4 linked regions of the Homo sapiens genome follow. The protein of the gene in region 3 interacts with the protein of the main gene of each other region in a pairwise test. Each region holds a gene or a part of one and is shown on either strand. Other genes may lie near its edges.

Region 1 (7,634 bases), on a different chromosome or scaffold from region 3:
TGATGGTAAATATTTAACTTGGAAATTGTATAAAATACATGTTTCTCTGTTCTTTGTCAATAACTTCTCTATTAAATAGTTGACATAATAGAGTAGCATGTGCTGAAGTCAGCACAGTGCTGTAATCAGCAATTAATAACATGCTAATATTTCTCATATTCACAAACACAGATTATTTTTACTATGGATCATTCAGGTGTGATAATGTTAATGTATTATGGCAATGACTTCTAAAATCAGTTTATTTTTCCTTACAGTGATGGCATTATTAGAGTGTTTACAGAATCAGAAGATCGAACAGCAAGTGCTGAAGAAATCAAGGCTTTTGAAAAAGAACTGTCTCACGCAACCATTGATTCTAAAACTGGCGATTTAGGGGACATCAATGCTGAGCAGCTTCCTGGGAGGGAACATCTTAATGAACCTGGTAAGTATTTTATTGTACCTAGTAGAAAAAATTCACCATATTTGGCTTTTGGAACAATTAGAAGAAAAATAAATGTTGTTTTGCTTGTGTTTTTCATTGCTAGATGCTGATTTTTGAGGATTTTTACTATTACATATAATCACTATGAGAAACCATGTTCTTGCCTCTGTCTCACAGAAGACTTTGAATTAAGCTTCTCATAAACAGGAATTAAAAAATAAATCTCCCAACACTTAGATCATTTACAGTAGACACTCAAAAGGCACTCATTTAATACTTTTTGGTTGATTGGATTCTCTGAGAGGGGTTACAAACTGAATATTAAAATGAGTTTAAATACGAAATTAGCCAGGTGTGATGGCATGCGCTTGTAGTCCCAGCTACTCAGGAGGCTGAGGTGGGAGGATGGTTTGAGCCCAGAAGGTTGAGGCTGCGGTGAGCCGACACCACACCATTGCATTCCAGCCTGGGTGACAGAGTGTGACTCTGTCTCAAAAAAAAAAAAAAATGAGTTAAAATCAAGCATTGTCTGTGTAATGAGTTGGGAATCATTCGAGTTTGAAATCAGAAGACCGTAGTCATCTCAAATGAAATCTTGGGTTGGATGTATCTCTTGATTGCATTATTATACCAGTGCTTCTCAAAGCTTGATTCATGGACCTCTGGGGATTCTGAGATCCTTTCAGGATGTCCATGAGGTCAAAACTAATTTTTGTAATACTAGATATTATTTGAATGTTGTACATTGTATTAATGTTTGCACTTATGGTGCAAAAACAATGGTGGGTAAAACCACTGGTTCACTAGTATGTAAATCAAGCCAGGGGCTTTAAACCATTCTGGTAAGTTACTATGTTCTACTTGCATGCAGTTGTAGTTTAAAAAAAAAAAACAATAAAAACAAAAAAAAACAGTTTGCCATTAAGCATGTCCTTGATGAGGTATTAATATTAAGAATTATCAGTTTTATTACATTTTGACACATCTTTTTAAATATTCCGGGTGAGAAAACCTAAAGTAGACATAAAGTAAGTCAAAATACTGTGGTGTCTCAAAGAAAAGAACATGCGCAGTCATTTGAGTTGCAGGCTAAACTACCAGTTTTTTCATGGAGTGCTATTTTTATTTGAAAGAATGACTACGGTTATTCAGGCTTTGGTATTTGGCAGACGTTTTTTGAAAATGAACAAATTGAGCATGTTCCGTCAAGGAAAATAACTGATAATATATGTTGCCAAAGATAAAATTCAAGTGTTTGAGTGAAAATTGAAATGTAGGAAAAATGTATCTCCACCAGGAACTTAGTAGCTTCCCATTTGTATTGATACTAGTGGTAATAACATTAACAAATGCCATTTTTTAATATTGAATAATAAACTGTATGAATATGCAGAAGATCTGCGTAAGTTATTGAACCATTATTTTCCATATGACTAGTATCTGATACCATCTCAGACATGGGTAAAAGATCCATTCAAAGTACAAGATAGACCAGTGGATTTTAGTATAATAGAGCATGAAAAATTCATTGATGTGGTTTCAGATTGTACACTGTAGCGTTTAAAAAACTAGTATTTCTGGCCTATCCACATTTTCTGAAAAGACTTGTCTTCTCTTTTTCAACTACCTACGTGTGTTAGGCTGGATTTTCTTTTTGTAGTCAACCAAAATAACAAATTGAAACAGATTAAGATGGGGTAAGAGGGGAGATTAAAGTATGATGGACTAGGCCAGAACTGGCATATATCACATCCACCCAGATTCCACTGACCATTACTCAGTAATGTGACATCATGTGACTGCCCAATGCAAGGGGACTAGATAATGTAGTCTCTGGCTAGACAACTACAGCTGTATCTAATGGAAGAAGAGCATGATTCTTCGGAGGATGGATAGCTGTCTCCGCCACTGAAGGCCTTGTTGAGAACATGACATTTGTGTAAAGTTGTTAAAGAGGGAAAGGAGCAAATACTGCCAATATCTGTGTGAAGAGCATCATAGGCAGAATAAACAGCTAATACAAAGGCTCTGTGGCTGAAGTTGGGAGATGAGGGGACAGGGGGAATAGTAGAAAGTAAGGTCATGTAGGATAGTGTGGACAATTTATATTTGGTCTTGTACACTACTCAAGAGTTTAGGCTTTTACCAAGTGAGATGAAAAGCATTGATGGGTTTCAAGCAGAAGAGTGTCAGGACCTACTTAAACTTTTGAAAAAATTCCTGAAGTTGCTGGGTGGAATATACACTGTCGGGGGCCAAGAGTACAGGAAAGAGGCCGTTGAATCAACCCAACTGAGAAATGATGGTGGCTTGGACCAAGGGATGATGATGGAGATATTAAGGAGACAGTTTTCTAGATATATTTTAAAGAATGAGCTGATAGCAGTAGCTGAAGGGGGTGCTGAGAAGTAGCCGAAGGAGCGATGGGGTTGAGAGAAAGGTATCAGGCTTTTCTACTTTTCAGTTTGAGCCACTGGATTAATGGAGAGCCATTTACGGAATGAAATGTGTTAGGAAGATATATTCACTAATAAAACTTGTTTTATTTTTGATGGGCCAGTTGCTTCCTAGTAGAATCACGTTTTGTTAACCTTCCTTTGATTAATAATATTTCCTTTTAACTGTTATTTTCTTTTGGCCACATTTTTAAATCTTTTATTTGATACAATTTTATTTTGAAACAAAATCCATATTCTCTTATGTGTAAATTTTAATGTTAAGAATTTTCTATTTAAATGTTTTTCAATTTTACATTGCCATTCTACCTTTGATTCTTAAAATTTTTATTTTAAGGTACTAGAGAAGGACAGACTCGTCTAATCAGAGATGGGGAGAAAGTCGAAGCCTATCAGTGGAGTGTTAGTGAAGGGAGGTGGATAAAAATTGGTGATGTTGTTGGCTCATCTGGTGCTAATCAGCAAACATCTGGAAAAGTTTTATATGAAGGGAAAGTATGTCGACTTCTACTTTCTAATTACTATTGTCTTAAATATTAGGCAAATTAAAGGTTTCCTTTGCCCCATAGTGATAAAATTTCCTTTGTTTTGACATTTAAAAATCCATTACTGTGGGAAACTAATCTTTTTTTTCCCTGTCTTGAAATAGATATTTTAAAAGTATCTTTCCATGTAGTGAGAGCTGCATTTGAGAGACAAATTAGCAATTGTCTGTCATGTAGTAGTTTCTATACAAAAGCTGTTCCCAGCCATTTTGGATTGGGAGCTTCTGTGCCACCTTTCATCAAATGCCTCATGCCTGGCTATATTTAACTTGACAAGACATGAGAGACCCTGCAGGGCAGTGCTTAAAATGCCAGCACGTTTTGGTGAGTAGGGCACAGTAACAGCTGATAATTTTGATCTTGATATCAAACCAGTTGGAAACTCTGCTTTGGCTCTAGAGTTAATATGTAGTTGTAATCCATCCTTCATCCTCACCCCCATCCCCTAATGAAATACTAATTTTGCATCACATGCAGATGGGGGCTGTTAATCTTTATCTGCCAAAAACGAAGATTTTAGCACTGCACTTTGGAGAAAGTTTAAGTACTGTAATTATTAAAGAACACATCTGTGTTATGTTGTATATGTCATTAATATATGTGAACAGATAATAAGCATGTATCTCCTTTTTATATTCCTACTTTAGGAATTTGATTATGTTTTCTCAATTGATGTCAATGAAGGTGGACCATCATATAAATTGCCATATAATACCAGTGATGACCCTTGGTTAACTGCATACAACTTCTTACAGAAGAATGATTTGAATCCTATGTTTCTGGATCAAGTAGCTAAATTTATTATTGATAACACAAAAGGTCAAATGTTGGGACTTGGGAATCCCAGCTTTTCAGATCCATTTACAGGTAAGTTAGTGTTTATATTGAGTCTTATGTAGTTCCATTAGTGTTGATTGATTTTTTTGATGTTTTCAAATAGTCATGTGATTAGCTTTTTCAATAAATACCAATATCTACAGCAGGGTTTTACTTCACATTCATATGTTTAAGCCTCAAATGATGAAGTAATTCTGTATTTTACAGAAATAATAGTAAATTGTTGTCTTTCAAAAATACAATCATACTATAATGGAATTTCAGTTATTTGAAACAAAAATAAACTTGTAAGTTCTTTTATATAGTGTTTCTTTTAAAAAATTATATTTTGGCAAAATTTAGTAAATCTTTTTTTCACATGAGGCTAAATTGGTCAGTCATGCATCAAATCTAAAAGTGAACCCTATGGGTAGTTTTAGTTTATATGTGATGTGTATTCTACACGTTCATTTTAAGTTAATTGTTTGTAACATCGTATACATCGTATCTCATGTTATAAATGCAGTTAGGTGCTCATACCAGTCTGTAAATTGTAATCCTAATGGTACTAGTCCAAATTCTGGCCCCTAGGAAGTGGAATCTAATCCTAGTAATATTAACGTGAGTTCTGGAGACTGGTGTAGGAGGAAATAAAATGCCTCCTCTAAATAACATTTTGAGATAGGCACTTTACTGTTAATGTTTTCCTCTCATCATTTCTGACTCAACATTTTTCAGGTGCTAGTGCTCTTCCTTGTTTTACGAGGACTTTGTATTATATTCCTGTCTCAAATCCTTATGTAGATCCACCTTTTCTTCCCTGACAGCTACTCCACATTCCCAAATTATCTCCTCATTCTACTTCAAAATTTCATTGCCCATTCATAAAATAAAACTAATGTTACCTGCATGTTGATTTAAATAGAATTATCAGGCCAGGTGTGGTGGCTGACGCCTGTAATCCCAGCACTTTGGGAGGCCAAGGCAGGCAGATCACAAGGTCAGGAGTTCAAGACCAGTCTGGCCAACATAGCGAAACCCTGTCTCTACTAAAAAAAAAAAAAAAAAAAAATACAAAAAATTAGCCAGGTGTGATGGATGTGCGCCTGTAATCCCAGCTCCTTGGAAAACTGAGGCAGGAGAATCACGTGAACCTGGGAGGCAGAGGTGGCAGCGAGCCAAGATCGCACCATTGCACTCCAACCTGGGCGATAGTGCAAGATTCCGTCTGAAAAAAATCAAAAAATTTTAAAAAAAATTATCAAAGTAACTTACTACTGAATTACAGATGATCTGATCCTCCAAATACTTGCACTTAAAAAGAAAATAATTGTTTAGTATGTGGATATTTTTGTTGTTGGAATTTCAGACTGTAGTTCAAGAGTGAACACAGATTGTAGTACTGTGTAAGCTATTTTGCATGTGGGATACAGGAAAGGAATTAAAGCAGCTGACTTTGTCTGGAAATCTAGGAAGCACTTGGCTTGTTTTGCCCTTCTGAGACTCTTAACTTTTTCAGCATCCTTACTGTTTTTTGTTTTTTGTTTTTTGTTTTTTTTGTGGACAACCTGATTATTTCCCTAGAGGTACTAACAAAACATAGGCACATACGCCACACATTCGTAAATGTATAAATGGAAGTCTCTTTCCTTTGTAGTTTTCATCCCTTTTCTAATTCTCTTCTCCAGTAGGTTGTAAGCTTCAGTGGATATAAGCAATTTTGTTCCCTTCTGGATCCCCAGCCCTGAGTCCATTGTTTGACACATGAATTAATGAACCTAGAGCTCTAAATGATTAACATTTAGTGCCTGTGGTTTTGATAACAATAACAACAGCAGGAACTCTTGTGAATTTGTATAGGAACAGGGACAGGAATTGATTGTATGTTTATATATTTAGGTCAGATATTACCTGCAATTCTCTTTTGATATTTGAATTAAGTTTTAATATTTAAGTGCTGGGGCTAAGGTATAATAAAGCATTAAAGTTAAGAAAACAAAACTTGGAGAATCATTAAAATTTCAGTTTTTTCCCAGTTATAAGACTTCTGACTATAGTTTCTGTCATTCTATCATGTGAAAGTTTTGCTCTTCTGTTTTTCTCCAAATGTAGGTTCTTCTAAAACAAGCATTGTGCTGTTTGAAAAATTCAGAACTTTGGTGCACTTCTGCCTTTTCTTTATTTTGCATGCACAGGTGGTGGTCGGTATGTTCCGGGCTCTTCGGGATCTTCTAACACACTACCCACAGCAGATCCTTTTACAGGTGGGATGTAGTTTTGATTCATGTATCTTTCTTCACTAAATGTATAGCATCTTGCATCACATGGCTTTACATCTTGGAGATGTCATCCAGTAATTGGTAATTCCCTTATCTGCATTTCCAATTTTGATGGATTTCCTTTTCTTTAACTTCTGATTTTTGCTTTTTCCTGGAGTGGTTGTGTAGATTCCCTCGTGACTTTTAAATAGCATATTATTAGAATTCATTGTTTTCTCCAGGGGTCCTTCCCACCAGGAGAGCAGTATAGTTAAGAATATAGGTTTTAGAGTCAGACAAACCTTGGTTCAAAATTGGGCTCTACCACTTACTTGCTATGAGAAGTTGGCAAGTTACCTAACCTGTCTGAGCCTATTTTTTTTATCTGTGAAATTAGATAATAGGGGAACCCACCAACCAAGACACAGCATGAGTGCTATCACTGGCGAGATGCTACCAATCACGAGCAGAGAAGGAGCCATGTGAGCCCTGATATTGGATGGAGCAGTACAATCAAGAAGTCTCCCCAGGCATATTTTGACTTAACATGGAAGGAGACATTCCACCCAACTACCCAGGAGTAGTCTTCCTAATCTAAGTTATTAATGTCCTTCTTGAAGCCCTTGAAGTGTTGGTGTATCTCTTCAAAATGAATTTATTTACCAAGGTATGCATGCCTCAGCATCAACACTACTGGAAAAAGTGCCAGAGTTGGACTTTAAGGCAGCTGAAGAAGTCTCTATTTTCAGAATGGCTTTTGATATCTTGTATAATGCTGTTGTTGGATCTTCAGACAGAGTTCCTCGACAGTATACTCAGTTTGGGAAGAGATCATAGCGTTTAGGTATCCACTGGCCTTGCAGACTGGTACTGTGAGCTATAAAAATGACAACCTACAGTCCTCTCTAAGTCATAGAGATTGGACAAACATACAACGTTAGGTCAGCATCATGAAGTTGTGGATTGCTGTCCGTGAGCTTCCTTTTTCCTGTGAATTTATTGATGGCCCAGATGGAAATGGTTGTACCATGTGCATTGATAACAAGTAAATGAAAATAATTAACTATCACACTAAATGCTGTTATGGCACAGTGGCTGTTAAGGAAGTCTTTGATAACATAATGTGATTTCA
Region 2 (7,000 bases), on a different chromosome or scaffold from region 3:
TTGTAGAGATGGGGTTTTGCCATGTTGCCCACAGTCTTGAACTCCTGGGTTCATTCTGCTGAAAGAGACCACACCTGTCCTTTTCTTTATTTTTATTATATTTTTCAGAGACAGGGCCTTGCCCTGTTGCTCAGGCTAGAGTGCAATGGTACAATCATAACTTGCTGCAGCCTGGAACTCCTCCTGGGCTCAAGCGATCCTACCGTCTCACCTTCCGGAATAGCTGAGACTAAGGGCAGGCACCACCACGCTTGGCTAATTTTTTTTTTTTTTTTTTTTTTTTTGCTTTTTGTTTGTAAAGATGGAAACTTGCTATGTTGCTCAGCTGGTTCCGAAGTTTTGGCCTCAAGCAATCCTCCTGCCTCGGCCTCCGGAAGCACTGGGATTACAGGCATAAGCCACCAGGCCTGACGCCAGGCCTGTCTTTTTTCTACTAGTGATATGAACAATTTAGTTAGCAAGACAGATAGGAAGCAAGGAAGGGGAGACCCAGAGAATTCGTTGCATTCTAAACTAGTCCACTCATCTACCAAAGCCCTGTGAAGGACATTTTTAGCAGTTTTAGCAGTTTTCTGGTCAAAACTTTGATCGAGAAACAGATTGAGTGGATTCGATATTCTCTTGCTCACCCAGCCACGCCAGTTTGTCTCCTCTGCCTCCTAGTGCAGCTGTCCAGGCCTGGGACACCAGGCGGGTATGTGCGCATGTGGGGCAGGGCGGAGGTGGTGTGTGTACTTGTTATATTTAGCCACCTCCCTCTGTTCTCCCCCACTGATCCTGGCTGGAAAGGCTGGGCTTCCGGAAAAGAGAGGTGGATTTGCACACCTGGATCCCAAGCTGATAGAAAGTGGGGTGAAGACAAAGGGGACTCAGACTGGGGTGTCTGTCCTCTTCTATGCCCACAGTAGGAGGAGCCAGGATTGGTTACTCCCTGCTGGGTCTGCTGTGCTCAGAGTGAGGTAGAGAAGTGGGTAGAGTAAAGAATTTGGGAGAGGAAAAAAGGCATTTTCCCAACCCCTCCCACCAAAGCCTAGAGAGAAGGTGTTGTCTGGTTTAATGTTTAATTAGAGCTCAGAGTTCAGGGCCAGATTTGGAGTTGGGATGGAAAGTTGTTTTTAAGACCCTGTAGCAATTTTTGACCCAGCCTGGGTACCTCAACCACACTCAGGAGTTTGGGGGACCTTCTGTTGGGCTGGATTATAGGCTCCAAGAAGAAACCCCTTTCGCCAATACTCTCTCTCTCTTCTTTTTTTGAGACAGGGTCTTGTTCTGTTGCCCAGGCTGGGGTGCAGTGGCATGATCACAGCTCACTGCAACGTCAGCCTCACAGGCTCTGGTGATTCTCCCACCTCAGCCTCCTGAGTAGCTGGGATTACAAGTGTGTGCCACCATGCCCAGCTAATTTTTTTTTTCTTTTTTTTTTTTTGAGACGGAGTCTTGTTCTGTTGCCAGGCTGGAGTGCAGTGGTGCGATCTCGGCTCATTGCAACCTCCACCTCCCAGGTTCAAGCGATTCTCCTGCCTCAGCCTCCCGAGTAGCTGGGACTACAGGCACATGCCATCACGCCCAGTTAATTTTTGTATTTTTAGTAGAGTTGGGGTTTCACCATGTTGGCCAGGATGGTCTTGATCTCTTGACCTCGTGATCCGTCCACCTTGGCCTCCCAAAGTGCTGGGATTACAGGTGTGAGCCACCGTACCCGGCCACTAATTTTTATATATTTTGTAGAGATGGGGTTTCACCGTGTTGCCCAAGCTGGTCTCGAACTCCTAGGCTCAAGTAATCCACCTGCCTTGGCCTTGGCCTCCCAAAGTGCTGGGATGTATAGGCATGAGCTACCGCACCTGGTACCCCCTGCCCCTTCTCTGTCTCTTTCTAGTCTGTAGCCCAAGGGATTTGGATACCCAAGTGCAGGCAGAATGGGAAGGTTGTAAGCACCAGGGAAGCCTGTCTGGAGTCCAGGCTTGCAGCTGGGCCCCACCCCAGGCAAGGCAGCTGGGTGGATGACTCAGATGCTGCCCCCCTCCCTCCCACCCTGGTGGCTTTACAGAAGACAGCAGGAGACAGGGTGGAGACAGCAGTTGTCTTAAAGGGAGGAGTGGTGGTCTGAATGTCTACCTCTTCTGCCCCCCTCCCCATTGCATCCTGGAGTCCCTTGCCTGGCTCCTTCCTGAGACCCTCTGGTGGTGTCTGGACACATAGCTCTCTCTGGACAGGTAACATGCACAAGTAATTAGAATCCAGAGTTGAGTTCAGAGTTATGGATTGGGCTGCAGGATAGTGCCAGGGTCTGTGCCTTCCCATGTGAAACTGATGGAGGAAGGCTGAGTCAGAAGTGGGGAGATCCGAGGCCCACAAAGCAGAAGCGCTACTTCCACTCCAAAAAGGCCCTGGTGCTTGACAACTTCCTGGATTGCCCACTGTTGCAGCCCCAGTGTGGACAGGCAGGGAGATGCAGGCTCCAGTTCATGTAGGCTCTGATCAAGACAAGAACAGCAAAGGCCACAGAGGCACAGATGCTTGTCCCATGTCACACAATAAAGGGGTCAGCACTTGATCACAGGCCTTATGACTTCCAGCTGGGTGTGCTCTTACCATTAAGCCTCACTTCTCTAGCTTGGGGGACAGGTTGGAGGGAGGATCTAGAGGGTGAGGTAAGGTGAAGTCAGGTAGCTGAGGCTCACTTCTGCAGCCTGGAAACTCTGCTCTGGGGCCAGTGACACCTTAGTGCTCTATGGCCATACTTCGTGGCTCATGCCTGTAATCCCAGTGCTTTGGGAGGCTAAGGCAGGAGGATCACTTGAGGCCAGGAGTTTGAGACCAGTCTGGGCAACATAGCAAGACCCCCTTCTGTACAAAAAAATTAGCCGGTCAACACCTGTAGTCCAGCTGCTTGGGAAGCTGAGGCGGGAGGATCACCTGAAGCCAGGAGTTTGAGGCTATTGTGAGCTATGACTGCACTACTGCACTCTAGCCTGGGAGAGAGAAAGACCCTGTCTCTGAAAAAGAAAAAAACAAAACAAAACTCTGCTGTCCTGCAGGGCCTGTTAGCATATGATCGATAGCCTTTGCTCCAGCCTATACCTGGACCCAGGACCCCTGCCAGCCCCTCAATCGTGAGACGGTCAGAGCTCTGGGAGGCTGGTGATTCTTGTCTTGAGACTATCTTGAGACTTGTCATGGGAATTGTCCACCCGGATTGAAAGGAAGCTGTGCCTTTTGGCAGACCCATTAGGTTAATGGGGTTGGAGACCTTTGAGGATGCATGGGCCCTGGGCTTTATCTGAGGGTATCTCCTGGTGTTACCTCTCCAACCCTCCACCACCAAATCCATTCTTTTTTTTTTTTTTTTTTTTTTTTTGACAGTCTCGCTCCCTGGCCCAGGCTGGAGTGCAGTGGCATGATCTTGGCTTACTGCAATCTCCACCTCCCAGGCTCAAGTGATCCTCCCACCTCAGCCTCCCAAGAAGCTGGGACTATAGGCACGTGCCACATGCTCGGCTAATTTTTCTATTTTTAGTAGAGACCAGGTTTCACCATGTTACTCAGGCTGGTCTTGAACTCTGGGGCTTAAGCAGTCCACCCACCTTGACCTCCCAAAGTGCTGAGAGCCACTGAGCCTAGCCCAAATCCACGTTCTGATTCAAAGGGAAAGAAGAAGGGTGCAGCTAAACCTGGGGGGTGAGAAGTACTTAAAAAGCCCAAGAGAAACAAAAGAGAGAATAATTCCTCACTAGGACCCCCTATTGCCTTCCCACTATTGGTGCCCTTGCTTGGCACTTCCCCTGGCCTCCAGGAGTCTGAGACTTACTCTTCCATGGATGTGCCCATTGCCCCCACTTCCAGGTCCACCCCCCAGTGATTCGGTAGCTTAGTGTCTGCGCTGAAGCCCAGGACAGCTGGATGGACAACTGGTAGATCCCTTCACCTACCAACTGTGCTTTCTGCTCCCCTCCCCCTTGCTTCCCTCCTCCCCAGCCCCTCGCCACCCCTAGCAGCTGCAGCAGCCAAGACCAAGTCTTCAGAGACCCAGACACAAGGGCAGGGTTCATTCCATTCTCACCTCCTTGGGGTCCCAGTGTACTGATAGGCCGAACTCTAATATTATAGGAGATCTCTGGAAGATTGCAGGGTCTCTTATCCCTCAATAAGGGGCAAGGCAAGCCGGGCGCAGTGGCTCACGCCTGTAATCCCAGCACTTTGAGAAGCCGAGGGGAACAGATCACTTCAGGTCAGGAGTTAAGAGACCAGCCTGGCCAACATGGTGAAACCCTGTCTCTACTAAAAATACAAAAATTAACCAGAAATCGCTTGAACCCAGGAGGCAGATGTTGCAGTGAGCCGAGATCACGCCACTGCACTCCAGCCAGGGCGACAGAGCAAGATTCCGTCTCAAAAAAATAATACTAATAATAAATAAATAAATAAGGGGCAAGGTAGTCCACCAACAAAATGACAGGCAGTGTGATATAGTGGACACCCTAGCCCTCGGTGCCCTTAGTTCTGTGTGTGGCCCTTTCACTAAATTGCTGTGTGACCTTGAGCAAATCGCCTCCCCTTTCTGGCTTTCCTTAGCTGTAAAAGAAAGGGATTGGAGCGGAAAGTCTCCAGAGACCTTTTAGGTTCCAAAGTAGTACAGTGACCCACAAAGTGAGAAAACAGTCTTCTAAAATACCAAGTTATTAATAGTAAAATCAAATATAAATAATGTGAATATAGTTAATAGCTAATGTTGTTCTCAATAGAAATGTTTCCCACAAGCTGTGGAATTAAACATACTACCACATTTCTCTATTTCCCCGTGAAAGTTTGTTAGAAATGGTTAAATTGTGACATTACCCTCTTGGCAAATGTTTTGTTTTCATTGCTACTAGGAAAGGGCAACTCGTTTTCGATGCCTCTCCCTTCTGGACGGTGGAAAGGGCTGTGTCATAGAGTAGGAACGGGAGATGCGGCACAGGAATGGCTCCCATTGACCCGGGTTGGGGGCTAGGGCGAAGGCCTAGGAGAGGCAGAACTGTTACCTTAGAGCTGGCCAGGATTAGAGAACAGTGCCTGGAACCGGGGGGAGGGGCACGGTGACCTTGGGCTGCCCACCTTCTACCCTTCCAGCACCCATACTGGCTCCCCCAACCTGCGGCTGGGCTGGGAGGAGGTCTTGGCCCCTACCAATCCCTTAAGGAAGGGGAAAGAGTTTGGGAAGGGGAGTCCTCCCTTCACCCCTGCCTCCCCCAAGTTGTGAGAGAGGAAGCCGGAATCCTGCCTGCTGAAGCCAGGAATAATTCTGGCTGAGATCCCAGGCCCGGCAGGGGCGCTGAGTCATGGTAGAGGGCAGAGTGGAGAGTGGACAGGAGACCCTAAGCTTGTCCAGTCAGAAAAGCAGAGGCTGAGGGGTGGCCTTTTCTTGAGAACTACATTCAAGTTGCAGCAAGAAGGACAGTGGTCTGAATTTGACGGGGACAAATGGAAGGGAGATAGGACACATGAGTTCCTTTAGGTCTGGCTCAGGGGAGCTAGACTTCATTTCAAGGGGTCTAGGTTCTGGGCAGTTGAGAAGGAGGCTATTTGGGGTCACCAAGGCTCCCCTTTCTTCCCAAAGCTCTAACACTGCCACCTTCTGCTGGCTAGGAGAGAGCTGTGTCTTCTGAGGCTAGAGCTGGAATGCAGTGAGACCAGACTGCCTAGGTCCTCCCTCACTTCTTCTCCTGACCTTGGGGTGTGGCTCCCACTCTCTCCCAGTGTCCTCAGGGTTAATAACTATGTGCCACCAGATAGAGAGTTAAGGGGCTGCTGAATTGGCTTCTTGTGAAGGGAATCCCCTAAATGTCCCTCGTTTTGGTCACTGGCCTCCCTCCCGCCCCCTTCAGGACATTCTACTATCTTCTTAGGCCATCCCTCCCTCCTCCAGGCACTACTTCTTTTGCTCTATCCCCAAGCCCCACCCCTGCATTTTTGTGACAACACCGGAATGATTTCTAGAGAGAGAGGCCAGGAAGAAGGAAAGTGGCACTTGGCAGGAGACCTTGCAGGGGGCGGCTGGTGAGGAAGCCAGCCGCCCATTGTCCAGGACCCCAGTGCCCTGGCCTCCGGCCTCAGGCTTCTCCTGCCTCTGTACAATGCCACGTTGATACGCCCAGCAGCTGTGACTCAGGCCTGGCCCCCTGCCAGGCCCAGCACTTCTACTGGAGTTGCGTCTGAACATGTCAACAGGCTTCCTATCCCTCTCTCAGCACCAGTTCTCCCCACTTCAGCCCCTCCCTCTGCCTGGAATTAAAACCTGGCTTTGTCTTAGGGAAGGACAGCTGGGAGCCTAGTGGCTCTGGTAGGGGATCTGAGAGGCCTCAGACCCTAGGCATATTTGGCTGTTTGGCAGGTGTCACGCCCAAGGGAAGCGTGTGGAAGCAGAGCCATGCCTGCTGTGGGTGCACATGCCCGCGTGAGGGAGTCGGGGTGTTTCATCCTGGGGCACCTGTGGGCTTTTGAGGTGTATGATATTCAGAACTTCACAGGTTGGGGTTTGGGGAAGGCTCAAGGGGCTTCTAAGTCCCTGGAACAGCTGCCCCCCTCAGTTCCTCTCTCTCTCTCTCTTTTTTTTTGAGATGGAGTCTCGCTCTGTTGCCCAGGCTAGAATGCAGTGGCGCGATCTTGGCTCACTGCAAACTCCGCCTCCTGGGTTCAAGTGATTCTCCTGCCTCAGCCTCCCAAGTAGCTGGGACTATAGGTGCCCGCCACCATGCCTGGCTAATTTTTGTATTTTTAGTAGAAATGGGGTTTCACCATGCTGGCCAGGATGGTCTCAAACTCCTGACCTCGTGATCCACCCACCTTGGCCTCCCAAAGTGCTGGGATTACAGGCGTGAGCCACTGCGCCCAGCCTCAGTTCCTCTCTTTAAGGTCTCCTTTCCAGAGAGGGATAGCACCTCAAATGCCAGGGAGGGGAATTCTCCACATCCTGCCCTTACCCGAGTTGTGGCAGACCCACAGACTAGCCAAGAAACCA
Region 3 (7,450 bases):
AGTGCTGGGATTATAGGCATGAGCCACCGTGCCCGGCCTTCCTTAGCATTCATTTATTTACAAATAACGAGAGGTCATACTATCTCATTATTATTACTATTTATTTATTTCATTTTTTGAGACGGAGACTCTGTCTCAAAAAATAAATAAATAAAATAAAAAAATAAAGCCCATGCTTGTCACTCTACCGTGGAGAGGCAACATAGCATAGTGGTTTAGAGAACACACACTGCCTTGGGTTGAATCCTAGTTTTGTTATTTACTTTGTGACTTTAGGTAAATTATCTCATCTTGGCTGGGCATGGTGGCTCACACCTGTAATTCCAGCACTCACGCCTGTAATTCCAGCACTCACGCCTGTAATTACAGCACTCACGCCTGTAATTCCAGCACTGGGCATGGTGGCTCACGCCTGTAATTCCAGCACAAGGCAGGGGATGGCTTGAGCTCACAAGTTCGAGACCAGCCTGGGCAACATAGCGGAAACCTACCTCTACTATAATAAAAATACAAAAGTTAGCCAGGTGTGGTACATGCTACTTGGGAGGCTGAGGTGAAAGGATGGCTTGAGCCTGGGAGAAGGAGGTTGCAGTGAGCCAAGATTGTGCCACTGCTCTCCAGCCTGGGCAATAAAGCCAGACCTTGTCTCAGAAAAAAACCCATCTTTCCTTTTTTTTTTTTTTTTTTTTTTTTGAGACGGCCTCTTACTCTGTCACCAGGCTGGAGTGCAATGGCACAATCTTGGCTCACTGCAACCTCCGCCTCCCAGGTTCAAGTGATTCTCCTGCCTCAGCCTCTCAAGTATCTGGGATTACAGGTGTGTGCCACCACGCCTGGCTAATTTTTTGTATTTTTAGTAGAGAAGGGGTTTCACCGTGTTAGCCAGGATGGTCTCGAACTCCTGACCTCATGATCTGCCCGCCTCAGCCTCCCAAAGTGCTAGGATTACAGGCGTGAGCCACCGTGCCTGGCCAAAAAAAAAACATCTTTCTGAGTCTGTTTTTTGTTTTTTTATTTTTTTTTCTTGAGACAGAGTTTCACTCTTGTTGCCCAGGCTGGAGTGTAATGGCACGATCTCGGGTCACTGTAATCTCCGCCTCCTCGGTTCAAGCAATTCTCCTGCCTCAGCCTCCTGAGTAGCTGAGATTACAGGAGCCTGCAACTATGCCCGGCTAATTTTTATGTTTTTTTAAGCAGAGATAGGGTTTCACCATGTTGGCCAGGCTGGACTCGAACTCCTGACCTCAGGTAATCCACCCGCCTTGGCCTCCCAAAGTGCTAGGATTATAGGTGTGAGCCACCATGCCTGGCCTTGAGTCTGTTTTTTTGTGACTAAAAATAGCTTCTACATCATAGGGATTGTTGTGATGATTAAATATGGATTAATCATACAAAATTCTCTAGCAGGCCGGGCACGGTGGCTCACGCCTGTAATCCCAGCACTTTGGGAGGCCGAGGCAGGTGGATCACCTGAGGTAACAAGTTCGAGATTAGCTTGGCCAACATGATGAAACCCCTTCTCTACTAAAAAATACAAAAATTAGCCCGATGTGGTGGCGGGTGCTTGTAATCCCAGCTACTCGGGAGGCTGAGGCATGAGAACAGCTTGAGCTTGGGAGGCAAAGGTTGCAGTGAGCCAAGATCCCACCACTGCACTCTAGCCTGGCAACAAAGTGAGACCCTGTCTCTCTCACACACACACACACACACACACACACACACACACACACACACACAAGTCTCTAGTGCATATATTATCAATATCAGTAACTGTTATTGTCATTATTACTCTACCTTCTAATAAACATTTAAAGTGAGCTTCACTTTCAGGAATCTAACAGCCCGGGTAGTGGTGGAGCACAAAGTAATCAACAGTGACTCACAGCAGTGGGGATAAATGCTTAATGGGTTAAATACTGTAGCTGGAAGGCAGACAGCAGTGGTCAAAGCAGGCTTTTCTTAGAAGGCAAATCCTGAATCCTGAAAAACTCCTGGGAGTTAGTTTACTAAGTGAAGAGACAGGACATCCTAGGCGGAGACTGGTTGGTGCACAGGCCAAGAGGAGGGTGAAGTCTGGTTTGCAATATGCACAGCTTACCCTCAAGTGGTGGGTGATGAAACTGCACAATAACTACCAGCATTTACATACTCTGCCTTGCCAGGCACCAAAGTAGGTGCTATTGTGATCTCCACTTGAGAGGGGGTTCTAACCCCCCTCCCCGCAAAAAAAGCCAAGGTGGGCGCAGAAGGAAGTCAGACCACTAGCATTTAAGTTGTCCCAGATGGCCGAGTATGTAGCTCACGCCTTTAATCTTAGCACTTTGGGAGGGCGAGGCAGGTGGATCACTTGAGCTCAGGGGTTGGAGACCAGCCTGGCCAATATGGCGAAACCCCGTCTCTACAAAAAATAGAAAAATTAGGCCGGGCGCGGTGGCTCACACCTGTAATCCCAGCACTCTGGGAGGCCAAGGTGGGTGGATCATGAGGTCAGGAGTTCAAGACCAGCCTGGTGAAGATGGTGAAACCCCGTCACTACTAAAACTACAAAAATTAGCCAGGCGCGGTGGCAGCCACCTATAATCCCAGCTACTCGGGCAGGAGAATCGCTTAAACCCGGGGCAGGCAGAGGTTGCAGTGAGCTGAGATTGTGCCACTGCACTCCAGCCTGGGTTACAGAGTGAGATTTTGTCTAAAAAAAAAAAAAAAAAAAAAAAAAAAAGGAGAGAGAGAGAGAAAAGAAAAAGAAAAATTAGCCGGGTGTGGTGGCATGTGCCTGTAGTCCCAGCTACTTGGGAGGCTGAAGTGGGAGGATCGCTTGAGCCCAGGAGGCTGAGGTTGCAGTATGTCAAGATTGCACCACTGCACTCCAGCCTGGGCGACAGAGCCAGATCCTGTCTCAAAAACAAAAATAGCTGGGTGTGGTGGCTCACGCCTGTAATCCCAGCACTTTGGGAGGCCGAGGTGGGTGAATCACCTAAGGTCAGGAGTTCGAGAACAGCCTGACCAATATGGAGAAACCTCATCTCTACTAAAAATACAAAAATGGCTAGGCTCGTTGGCTCACGCTTGTAATCCCAGCACTTTGGGAGGCCGAGGCAGGTGGATCATATGAGGTCAGGAGTTCAAGACCAGCCTGACCAACATGATGAAACCCTGTCTCTACTAAATATACAAAAATTAGCCGGGCATGGTGGCGTGGGACTGTAATCCCAGCTACTCAGGAGGCTGTGGCAGGAGAATCGCATGCACCCAGGAGGCGGAGGTTGCAGTGAGCCGAGACCGCGCCACTGCACTCCAGCCTGGGCGACAGAGCGAGACTCCCTCTTAAAAAAAAAAAAAAAAAAAAAAAAAGCTGGGCATGGTGGTGGGCGCCTGTTATCTCAGCTATCCGGGAGGCTGAGGCAGGAGAAATGCTTGACCCGGGAAGCGGAGGCTGCAGTGAGCAGAGATCGCGCCACTGCACTATTGCACTCCAGTCTGGGCAACAAGAGTGAAACTCCATCTCAAAAATAAAAAATAAAAAAAAAAGTAAGTTGTCCTAGATGGTGGAAGTGTCACGGATTTTTAAGCAGGGAGGTGAAGACAGGACTACATGATTGTGTTTTGCAAAAATCCCTTTGGCAGTCAGGCAGAGGATGGCTCAATTCCCTAAGGAGAATGAGTGGGCCAAAGAGCAAGACATTTCTTCTGCTCCTGGCAAACATTGCCAAAGAACTTCCCAAAGCATTGCGCTAAGGGACCATATTCCTTCTAATTTCTAAGGAGGGTGAGGCAGGATGAAGTTCCGGGAACTGGCTTCATTCCGCCCACGGGTTTCAGAGCCGCACCAGCTTTCTTCCCCACAGCAGCCTGGCGCCTTGGCTTGGTGGGTTGCCTCCCTGTTCCCACCCACGGAAAGTCCTGGCAGCAGGGCCAGAAGTTTTATGGTTCTCAGCGGCACCCGTCGACATCCGCCCCCACGTGACCCAAACAGATCCGGCACTTCCGCTTCCCCTCGGCTTTCTTCTCGTCGGTGTTCCCGGCTGCTATAGAGCCGGGTGAGAGAGCGAGCGCCCGTCGGCGGGTGTCGAGGGCGGGTTGCCTCGCGCTGACCCTTCCCGCCCTCCTTCTCGTCACACACCAGGTCCCCGCGGAAGCCGCGGTGTCGGCGCCATGGCGGAGCTGACGGCTCTTGAGAGTCTCATCGAGATGGGCTTCCCCAGGGGACGCGCGTAAGGGAGTTCCCCAACCCCGGCCTGCGGGTGTGGGGGGTCGCGGACCTGTCTCGGCCTTTGCCCCAGCCTGACCGTCACCATGGCTCGTGGGCGCTATTCATGGTGTTTCTGCCCCCAGGGAGAAGGCTCTGGCCCTCACAGGGAACCAGGGCATCGAGGCTGCGATGGACTGGTAAGCGCTCGTCCCGGGTGGCGGAGAATTGGGGGCTGGCGGGAGGGGCAGCCTCAAAGCTAACCTCCCCGCCCACTTTCCCTGCCAGGCTGATGGAGCACGAAGACGACCCCGATGTGGACGAGCCTTTAGAGACTCCCCTTGGACATATCCTGGGACGGGAGCCCACTTCCTCAGAGCAAGGCGGCCTTGAAGGTCCTGACTGAGGGTCCACGGTGTGATTATTCAGGAGGGTCCGAGGAGAATCTGAAGGGATAATAATACCGATTGTTTGTTTGTAGGATCTGGTTCTGCTGCCGGAGAAGGCAAACCCGCTTTGAGTGAAGAGGAAAGACAGGAACAAACTAAGAGGTACAGTAACAACAATCTCACGTGTCTGAGGGTCGTCTTCCATCTCTCCCCAGTACACGTCTGGTCAAAGAACCTTGACCTTTCCACATTTCCTCTTTCTTGGCATTTTCTTTTCCTTTAATCTACTTTGGGATATATGTCGCCTAATTTTGTTTATTGTAAACTTTACACCTTCCCACTCTGTCCATTTCTCTTGAACTGTTTTCCCTCGGCAACACAGGATGTTGGAGCTGGTGGCCCAGAAGCAGCGGGAGCGTGAAGAAAGAGAGGAACGGGAGGCATTGGAACGGGAACGGCAGCGCAGGAGACAAGGGCAAGAGTTGTCAGCAGCACGACAGCGGCTACAGGAAGATGAGATGCGCCGGGCTGCTGAGGAGAGGCGGAGGGAAAAGGCCGAGGAGTTAGCAGCCAGGTCTGGGCAGGGGAAATGATGGATAGCAGATGAGAAAGAAATCAAGATTTGCTTTGTTGATGTCTGACCTAATTTCTTCTTGTCTACATTTCAGACAAAGAGTTAGAGAAAAGATCGAGAGGGACAAAGCAGAGAGAGCCAAGAAGGTAGGTGACTGAGAAGACGCCACGGGTAATGGAGTGGGCAGGTTAGTAAATCTTTTCCAGCTTCAGAGGGAAAGCATGGGCTTATATGATCTGTTTCACCTGAGGATGGGTGAGTACCTGATTGACTGTTTTACTTTGCCCTTTAGTATGGTGGCAGTGTGGGCTCTCAGCCACCCCCAGTGGCACCAGAGCCAGGTCCTGTTCCCTCTTCTCCCAGCCAGGAGCCTCCCACCAAGCGGGAGTATGACCAGTGTCGCATACAGGTACTGATTCTAATTCTTATCTTCCTCTTGGGACCCCTTTGTTCCGTGTTAAGGTGCCCAGCTCAGAGCTTTTTTCAGTTAACGTGCCCTTTGCCAAATCTCTCCCTTCTTTGTAAATGACTTTTGAAATCCTATCTCTACTCTTGGGAAAGGTATCAAATTTCACCTGCCCCAGTTGTATTTAAACCCATACCTCTCTCTTACTCAGCAGTTACCCTTTTACTTGTTCATGTTTTTATTTGGTTTATTATGTAGCTATCTGGTGATGTGGTATTTATCCAGATTCTTTTGTATAATCTTATCCTTGTCTTTCTTAGGTTGTGAGGGAGCTGGGAGTCTCTCATCCGCACTTAGTAAAGCGGAGCCTAAGTGGCTGTTCATTTGGTGCTTTAAATAGTAGTTGTGCTGGTTCAATCTAAGAAGAAGGGGGCCCAGCTTTAGCTCTTTTCCTTACTTGGGCACCTCATTCAGTTTTGATGCCCACAATACTGAGTATCTCCCTTGCCCTTTAGGTCAGGCTGCCAGATGGGACCTCACTGACCCAGACGTTCCGGGCCCGGGAACAGCTGGCAGCTGTGAGGCTCTATGTGGAGCTCCACCGTGGGGAGGAACTAGGTGGGGGCCAGGACCCTGTGCAATTGCTCAGTGGCTTCCCCAGACGGGCCTTCTCAGAAGCTGACATGGAGCGGCCTCTGCAGGAGCTGGGTATGGCTGCAAGACTAGAAACCAGGACTAGAAACTGGGGGAGTAGGGAGGCATGCCTAGGAAAAGGAGGGATGCAAAGAGAAGGGGCTTTGTGAACATGGTGCAAGGCCAGGAATTTTGGGAGCAAAAACCAAGTATCCTTGTGGTTCAAGCCTGTTTTCTTCCATCTTCAGGACTCGTGCCTTCTGCTGTTCTCATTGTGGCCAAGAAATGTCCCAGCTGAGGGCCTTTGTCCCATTGTCCCTCTGTGACCCCTTCATCTTTGATAAAGCACTGACATCTCCTTCCTAATAAATAGACCCTGAGTTCTGTACATGCCTGACTCCTTCCTGAATGGCTGGGAGGGACAAAACTAAGGCAGAGGAAGAGGCTAAAACGGAACAGTAGACCCTCTTCCTCATCTTTAGTTTCCAACAAAGACACTTGTTTGTAATCTCTGGGTCTGATTAACTGCTGGGGAAGTTGCGGAGGAGAGGTGCTAAAAGGGGTGGAGAGTACATTGGATGGCACCTTTTACTCCTATGGTAAGACAGAAAATAAAAGCCCAGCTGCTGCTTTTTTATTTTTATTTTTGAGACGGAGTCTTGCACTGTTGCCTGGGCTAGAGTGCAGTGGCGCAATCTCAGCTCACTGCAACCTCTGCCTCCCAGGTTCAAGCGATTCTCCTGCCTCAGCCTCCCTAGTAGCTGGGATTACAGGCACCCACCACCACGCCCAGCTAATTTTTTCCATTTTTAGTAGAGACGGGGTTTTGCCATGTTGGCTAGGCTGGTCTCAAACTCCTGACCTTGTGATTCGCCTGCCTTGGCCTCCCAAAGTGCTGGGATTACAGGCATGAGCCACCACGCCCGGCCTGCTGCTTTATTTATTTATTTATTTATTTATTTATTGAGAACATGAGAGTGCCTTTTCATTTTAAAAATGTTTGGAAATATGCACAACTTTGATACAGCTTTGGGGTGCTCCAGACACCCATGGCCACTTCATGTAAACCACTGAGAATTTCTTTTTTTTTTTTTTTTTTGAAATGGAGTCTTGCTCTGTCACCCAAGCTGGAGTGCAGTGGCACAGTATTGGCTCACTGCAACCTCCGCCTCCTGAGTTCACGGGATTCTTCTGCCTCAGCCTCCCAAGTATCTGGGATTACAGGCGCGCACCACCATGCCCAGCTAATTTTTTGTATTTTT
Region 4 (7,776 bases), on a different chromosome or scaffold from region 3:
AGGATCATGTGAGCCCAGGAGGTCGAGGCTGCAGTGAGTTGTGATTGCACCACTGTGCTCCAGCCTGGGTGACAGAATGAAACCCTGTCTGAAGGAAAAAAAAAAAAAAGTGATGAGACAGAATGAGACCTCAAGAGTTCAAGCACTGCTTGGGGCTTGTCTAAAGTTCTGACAGGAGGCAGGGAGGCAGTGCCAGCAGAGCAGGCTGAGCAGTGGCCAGCGAGGGAGGAAGACGGACGTGAGGGAGGAGCGCTTCCAGGATAGGGAGGTCACATCTGCTCAATGCCGTTGAGAGGTCAAGGAAAATGACTTCTGACAACAGATTATCGGATTTAGCAACTTGGAAGGAATTAGTGACCTTGATAGATTGACTGGTAGAATCAAAAACCAAACTGGAACAGGTTCAAAGGAGGATGGGAGGTGAGGGGAGAGGGTGTGTGTGTAAGCAGCTCTTTTGAGATGTTTTGCTGAAAGCAGGGATAGAAATGGCCCATAGCTTGAGGAGCAAGTAGAAAATAGCCTAACACGAGAAGGTGAGACTGTGGAAGGTGCAAAATCAGTGTAAATCCATTAGCACTATGGCCAAAATCATTCACAAGGTTTTTGCTGAGGAATTGGGCGCCCCCATTGCCATCCTTAAAAACAGGGCAACATCATAAGTAGTAATCTGGAGCACTATTTTCTTTCTACAGTGCAGAATGGGTACATGATAATCTCTGGGCTGAGCTGTTATCTTTTCTGGGTCCCTCTACCACCTTCGGGGTAGTGATGTGAGCAGGAGGGACAGATGCTGTCTCAGGTGGAAGGGTAGCCACACCCTTTCCCAAAAGTATAGGAACTGTTCCAGATCACTTTTTGGCCTCACTCTGGAGGGCCCAGGCTATTTCATTCTAAACCACTTGGCCCATCCTTGTCTAAGATTCCCTCTGGTTCAGTGTGTGGCTGGAATCTGGCTTTTTGTGTCCCTGATTTGTGTCCCAAGCAGCATTTGAACTTTTTTTTTTTTTAAGAGACAGAGTCTATGTTGCCCAGGCTGGAGTGCAGTGGCTGTTTACAGGAGCCATCAGAGGGCACTGCAGCCTCAAACTCCTAGGTTCAGGGGATCCTCTTGCCTCAGCCTCCTGGGATTATGGGTGCAAGCCCCCATGCCAGGCAGATTTAGAAGATTTTGAACAATGAAGTGTCTGTAATGCTCAGAGGAGCAAGCACACCTATACAGGGAGCATGGGGTCTTAGTAAATTCTTGCTGCACTCATAGCTGGGGGAAGAGCAGTATAGAGAAACAGAAGGTTTGAGGAGGGAAGAGGAAGAAAGGCCCTACCTCAGCCTGCCAAGTAGTCCTCACAACGGTCAGGAAAGTATTTATCACCCCCATATCATAGGTAAAGAAACTGCCAGGCTGGGAACAGTGATGCACACCTGTAATCATAGCACTTTGAGAGGCTAAGGCAGGTGGATCACTTGAGCCCAGGAGTTCAAGACCAGCTTGGGCAATGTGGTGAGGCTCCTTCTATACAGAAAAGTACAAAAATTAGCTGAGCATGGTGGCACATGCCTGTGGCTCCAGCTACTCAGGAGGCTGAGGTGGGAGGGCTGCTTGAGCTCTGGAGGCAGAAGCTGCAGTGAGCAGGGATTGTGCCACTGTACTCCAGCCTGGGTGACAGAGCCAAGACTCTGTCTCAAAAGATTTAAAAAAAAAAAAAAAAAAAAAAAGGAAACTACCTTGCCTGAGGCTCTAAATCTAGTTACTGCTTCCAACCATTTCAGGATTCAATTGGGAAGAGGTGGTGTTTGAACAGGCTTGGGGGCCCTTGATGCTTGCATCAACTTAATTCTCACTAAAAAACAAAAGTCTGCGTCCGGACGAGGTGGCTCAGGCCTGTAATCCCAGCACTTTGGGAGGCTGGGGTGGGTGGATCACCTGAGGTCAGGAGTTCAAGACCAGCTTGGCCAACATGGTGAAACCCTATCTGTGAGAGGTGACAGCATGCTGGCAGTCCTCACAGCTCTCGCTCGCTCTCAGCGCCTCCTCTGCCTGGGCTCCCACTTTGGCGGCACTTGAGGAGCCCTTCAGCCTGCCGCTGCACTGTGGGAGCCCCTTTCTGGGCTGGCCAAGGCCGGACCCGGCTCCCTCAGCTTGCGGTGTGGTGTGGAGGGAGAGTCGTGGGCGGAACCGGAGCTGCGAGCGGTGCTTGCGGGCCAGGGCGAGTTCCAGGTGGGCGTGGGCTCGGCGGGCCTCGCACTCGGAGCCGCGGCCGTCCCCGCCGGCCCCGGGCAGTGAGGGGCTTAGCACCTGGGTCAGCAGCTGCTGTGCTCAATTTCTCGCAGGGCCTTAGCTGCCTTCCCCCGGGGCAGGGCTCGGGACCCGCAGCCCGCCATGCCTGAGCCTCCCCCCACTCCATGGGCTCCTGTGCGGCCCGAGCCTCCCCAATGAGCACCGCCCCCTGCTCCACGGCACCCAGTGCCATCGACCACCCAAGGGCTGAGGAGTGTGGGCACACAGTGCGGGACTAGCAGGCAGCTCCACCTGCAGCCCCAGTGCGGGACCCACTGGGTGAAGCCAGCTGGGCTCCTGAGTCTGGTGGGGACATGGAGAACCTTTATGTCTAGCTAAGGGATTGTAAATACACCAATCGGCACTCTGTATCTAGCTCAAGGTTTGTAAACACACCAATCAGCACCCTGTGTCTAGCTCAGGGTTTGTGAATGCACCAATCAACACTCTGTATCTAACTACGCTGGTGGGGACTTGGAGAACCTTTGTGTCGACACTCTATCTAGCTAATCTGGTGGGGACATGGAGAACCTTTGTGTCTAGCTCAGGGATTGTAAACACACCAATCAGCACCCTGTCAAAACAGACCACTCTGCTCTACCAATCAGCAGGATGTGGGTAGGGCTAGATGAGAGAATAAAAGCAGGCTGCCCGAGCCAGCAGTGGCAACCCACTCTGGTCCCCTTCCACGCTGTAGGAGTGTTGTTCTTTCGCTCTTTGGGTCCACACTGCCTTTATGAGCCGTTAACATTCACTGTGAAGGTCTGCAGCTTCACTCCTGAGCCAGGGAGACCACGAACCCACCAGAAGGAAGAAACTCCAGATGCGCCACCTTAAGAGCTGTAACACTCACCACGAGGGTCCGCGGCTTCATTCTTGAAGTCGGTGAGACCAAGAACCCACCAATTCTGGACACATCTGTACTAAAAATACAAAAATAAGCCAAACGTGGTGGTGCATGCCTATGGTCCCAGCTACTCAGTGTGGTTGAGGCAGGAGAATTGCTTGAAACTGGATGGCAGAGGTTACAGTGAGCTATCACACCACTGCATTCCAGCCTGGGCGACAGAACGAGACTCTATATCAAAAAAAGAAAACAGGCCAGGCGTGGTGGCTCACGCCTGTAATCCCACCACTTTGGGAGGCAGAGGCGGGCAGATCACAAGGTCAGGAGATCAAGACCATCCTGGCTAACACAGTGAAACCCCGTCTCTACTAAAAATACAAAAAATTAGCCGGGCGTGGTGGCAGGCGCCTGTAGTCCCAGCTACTTGGGAGGCTGAGGCAGGAGAATGGCGTGAACCTGGGAGGCGGAGCTTGCAGTGAGCTGAGATTGCACCACTGCACTCCAGCCTGGGCAACAGAGCAAGACTCCGTCTCAAAAAAAAAAAAAAAAAAAGAAAACAGAAAAACAAAATTCTTAGTATAAAAGTCTTGAAATCACAGAGTTCTGACTTTGACTGCCCCTGCTTCTGGGAGCTACAGATCATGCTGTGGGCTGCCTCCACGGTCTGGTAACTCAAGGGTGACCGGGGTGAGGCACAGTTCCTTCAGAGCTACCTAGCTGAGTGTAAATGGGTTGTTCAAATTGCACTAGGGAGCCGGAGTTGCGTGGGTTTTAATTTAAAGATGTAAGTACAAATCTATGTGCATTGTAGAAAATTCGGAAAAGGTCCAACTGCCTAGCAAGTAAAAAGCTGTCATTCCAGCACGTGGGGGGTGACCGCTTCTCCCTTCTTGGGTGTTTTTTGGTGGATTTTTTTTGGTGACCCCGACTGGCCTAGACTCCATTCAAGGGCACATCTTGTGCAGTAAAACACGCATGTTTCAGGGCTCCTCACTGCAACACGTGCACCTCCAGGCTGGCGCTCAGCGCTCCCAGTAAAAGCTGCAGGCGGCGGTGTAGATAGTCGCCGGCCTTTCCTCCTCCCCACCTCGTGACGCTTTGTGCTGCGGAAGCAAAGGCCCGTTCCATTCCCCGTGTCTTCCCAGCAGCCGCCACCAATGCTCCTTTCTAGGAAACAGCCTTCCATTCTCTCTTAGGGCCGATCTTAGCGAGAGCCGCGATGCGGGCGACTGGTGCCGGGGTGGGTTGGGGGCGGGGGTGGGAATCAGGCCCCACTGCCAGGAGCCCGGGCCGCGCCTTCCGCTCTGACCTCATCCGGCCGCCCAGGCACTGGGCGCGGCAGCGAATCGGCGGCGCGGGCGGCCGGGAACGCCCAGCACAAATATTTACCGCCGCGCGGAGAGTGAGGGCCCAAGTCCGCCCTGCTCCGCCACTTAGGCCGCCCCAGACGCTTCCCTCGGGGCTGCCACCGGGTCGGGCGCGGCTGCCGCGGCTAGCGGGCCTTCCCCGCACCGGCGCGGCCCAACCGCCACCGAACCTTCTGGAAGCGGCGGCTGCCTGGGCCCCCACGCCGCCAGAATCGTACGCCCGCGCGAGCTCTCTGCAGCCTTGGCGGCCTGGGAGGCGGGGCTCGGGGTGGGGCCGGCGCGGGGGCGGGGTCGGCGCGGGGAGGCCGCGTTCGATTGCCCCCGGCGCGCAGGCCCCGCCTCACCAGCCCCATCGCTCCACCTCTGCCCTCCCCCTTTATGGCGCGGCCCGGGCTCATTCATTCCGCGCCGGGCCTGCCAGACACCTGCGCCCTTCTGCAGCCGCCCGCCGCATCCGCCGCCGCAGCCCCCAGCATGTCGGGCCCAGACGTCGAGACGCCGTCCGCCATCCAGATCTGCCGGTAAGAGAGGGCCCGCGCGCAGCCTGCAGCGGCCAGGCGCGCCGGTCACCGCCCCAGGCCTGCCCCGCTTGGCTCTGTGGTCCCCACCCGCCGAGGCCGCCCCCGCCCGCCGATTCCCCGCACGGCCTTCCGCGCCGCCGCCCCGGACGCCCGCCCGGCCGGGATGCGACTCGCGATGCCGCACAAGCCGGGCGGCCCCCGCCCGCCTCCAGCCGGCTCCTCCTGGCCGCATCTCCAGGGCGGCGGCCGCGCCACGGGCCGTTTGGGCGAGAAAGCCAGGCAGGGACGGGGCGGGCGGAGGTCAATGCACAGCTCCAGAGCCCGGCGACCGGCGCCCGTGGGCCGCCCCGCCTCGGGCCTCGCCCGAGCATCCCGGAGCCTCAGCCCCGTGGTCCTGCTTAGCCTCCTCGAGGATTCGGGATCATTACCTCGGCGGTTGTGCTGCGCTAACCAAAGCCCCCAGAGGTGGAGGGGAGGTGCCCAGAGCCGCGCGAGCCCCTCGGTGGGTGCCCCTGTGGGAGGAGGTTGCAGAGCTACCGTCTTCAGTGCACTGCTTCGGTTTGGGGGAGGGCAGGTGTTGAAAGGAAGAACAGATAATACTGTCTACCTCTAACAGTTTACTATGAAGAAAAGGGAATCAGTGGTCTGTTGGGCCTGAAAGCATCTTACACAATAGAGGCAAAGGGTTGTCCTTCTAGAGCACCCCCTCTTCTTCCACCAGGTACTGAGTAGATAGATGCAGGCCCCCAGAGGAAGCTGGAGGCTGGAGATCATGAACAAGCTCATTTCCCATAGGAGGTGGGGAGGGCAGCCTGAAGGTTACTCTGCAGTTCTCTTCGGCAGAATCGGAAGCAGCAGGCTGGCATTTGTGCATGAGCTAAGTGAGGACAAGGAGTCTAGGTTTTCAGCCACTGCACACAGGCTCTGTGGCCTGCGACCGGTCCTATCCTGCTTGATGAACTACCAGGAGTGAGAGCTGCTTTCTGTTTTGGTAGTGGGTTCCTCACATTTGGGGGTTGGGCATCACAGACTGACCTTGGGCTCAAGCCAAGTCCAATAGAAGCAAGTTACTTTCCTGTAGATGTTGACATCTCCAGGAAGGCTGGGCATATAGCAAGTCCTGGGTCTATGGCGATTCTTGACTCTCAGTCTCATCTTCTGGCCTGGTCGAGGGCCTCTCCTTACCTCAAGGTCGGTTTTGACTTTTCCAGAGGGGGAACGTCTTTGGGGGAGCCCTGCCCCTTTGACTTTGGCTCTGTGGCTGTTCTGGTCCCATCGACTCTGGAGGTGGGGAAAGCGGGGCAAAAAAAAAAAAGGAAATAACTGGAGACAGACAGCCTGCATCAGGTTCCTGAATCAGCTCTGCTGAGTATTGGCTGGGAAACTTGGGCTCCATGGTTTGCAAAGAGCTTATACCTGTCTCATCCCACTTGGTTTGCCCAATTCCCTGGGAGGTTGATGGTCGGTAGTGCCACCCTTACCTGTGTGGAGGAGGAAATGGCAGTTTTGGGAGTTGAGTAACTGTGTAAGGTCATCCTGCTCCAGGAGATCCAGGGACAGCCCCTGCCCAAGTCTTCTGACTCCAGATCCAGTATTCTTCCCACCCCTCTCCTGAATAAAGGAAACCTTGATTTAAATCTTCCCGTGGAAGGCTGGCCTTTTATTTACTTCTTCAGGGTGGTGAATAGCCAATTTATACATGTTGTCTTTTTTCACCCAGCTTCTAACAGTTACTAGATTTTTTGTTTTTTGAGACAGAGTCTCACTCTGTCACCCGGGCTGGAGTGCAGTGGCCCGATCTCAGCTCACTGCAACCCCTGCCTCCTGGGCTCAAGTGATTCTTGGGCCTCAGCCTCCCGAGTAGCTGGGACTACAAGAGTGCGCCACCACGCCTGGCTAATTTTTGTGTTTTTAGTAGAGATGGGGTTTCTCCATGTTGGCCAGGCTGGTCTCGAACTCCTGACCTCAGGTGATCTGTGATCTGCCCTCCTCGGCCTCCCAAAGTGCTGGGATTACAGGTGTGAACCACCGCACCCAGCTGGAAAAAGTTCTTGTGCCTCAGCCTCCTGAGTAGCTGGGACTACAGGCGTGCGCCACCACGCCCAGCTAATTTTTGTATTTTTAGTAGAGATGGGGTTTCATCATGTTGGCCAGGCTGGTCTTGAACTCCTGACCTCAGGTGATCCTCCCGCCTCAGCCTCTCAAAGTGCTGGGATTACAGGCGTGAGCCACTGCTCCTAGCCTAGTTACTAGATTTTTGTATAGCTTTAGACACTTCCATACAGTAAGTGTGTGCTTTTTGTTTGTTTGTTTGTTTGTTTTTGAGACAGTCTCGCTCTGTCACCCAGACTGGAATGCAATGGCACGATCTCAGCTCACTGCAACCTCTGCCTCCTGGGTTCAAGCGATTCTTCCACCTCAGCCTCCTGAGTTGCTGGGATTATAGGTACCCGCCATCATGTCTGGCTAATTTTTGTATTTTTAGTAGAGACGGGGTTTCACCATGTTGGCCAGGCTGGTCTTGAACTCCTGACCTCAGGTGATCTGCCCGCCTCGGCCTCCCAAAGTGCTGGGATTACAGGCGTGAGCCACTGCGCCTGGCCCGTGTGTGTGCTTTTTCTTACCCACTGTAAACCAAGTCTGCTATCTCAGGTTCACAATTGCATATTGTTTCTTTATTTTTTGGAGATGGAGTCTCACTCTGTCACCCAGGCTGGAGTGCGGTGACACACTCTCGGCTAACTGCAACCTCTGCCTCCTTTGTTC

The links.
Region 1: the proteins of UBXN1 (region 3) and PLAA interact in binary tests that used the Homo sapiens proteins (3 or more experiments, as listed by UniProt).
Region 2: the proteins of UBXN1 (region 3) and LMNA interact in binary tests that used the Homo sapiens proteins (3 or more experiments, as listed by UniProt).
Region 4: the proteins of UBXN1 (region 3) and ACOT7 interact in binary tests that used the Homo sapiens proteins (3 or more experiments, as listed by UniProt).

What each region holds. Positions count from the first base shown.
Region 1 is NC_000009.12:26,915,971-26,923,604, reverse strand, and holds part of PLAA (phospholipase A-2-activating protein), read left to right. Parts: intron 1-257; coding exon 258-427; intron 428-3,220; coding exon 3,221-3,378; intron 3,379-4,075; coding exon 4,076-4,295; intron 4,296-6,356; coding exon of another isoform or gene 6,357-6,439; coding exon 6,440-6,508; intron 6,509-6,899; coding exon of another isoform or gene 6,900-6,988; exon of another isoform or gene 6,989-7,634. UniProt on the Homo sapiens protein: Plays a role in protein ubiquitination, sorting and degradation through its association with VCP. Involved in ubiquitin-mediated membrane proteins trafficking to late endosomes in an ESCRT-dependent manner, and hence plays a role in synaptic vesicle recycling.
Region 2 is NC_000001.11:156,117,711-156,124,710, forward strand, and holds part of LMNA (lamin), read left to right. Parts: intron 1-7,000.
Region 3 is NC_000011.10:62,675,626-62,683,075, reverse strand, and holds UBXN1 (UBX domain-containing protein 1), read left to right. Parts: upstream 1-4,002; 5' UTR 4,003-4,152; coding exon 4,153-4,211; intron 4,212-4,332; coding exon 4,333-4,386; intron 4,387-4,474; coding exon 4,475-4,581; intron 4,582-4,667; coding exon 4,668-4,737; intron 4,738-4,957; coding exon 4,958-5,149; intron 5,150-5,243; coding exon 5,244-5,295; intron 5,296-5,441; coding exon 5,442-5,558; intron 5,559-6,070; coding exon 6,071-6,263; coding exon of another isoform or gene 6,264-6,358; exon of another isoform or gene 6,359-6,436; coding exon 6,437-6,486; 3' UTR 6,487-6,576; downstream 6,577-7,450.
Region 4 is NC_000001.11:6,390,491-6,398,266, reverse strand, and holds the start of ACOT7 (cytosolic acyl coenzyme A thioester hydrolase), read left to right. Parts: upstream 1-4,499; 5' UTR 4,500-4,867; coding exon 4,868-5,010; intron 5,011-7,776. UniProt on the Homo sapiens protein: Catalyzes the hydrolysis of acyl-CoAs into free fatty acids and coenzyme A (CoASH), regulating their respective intracellular levels.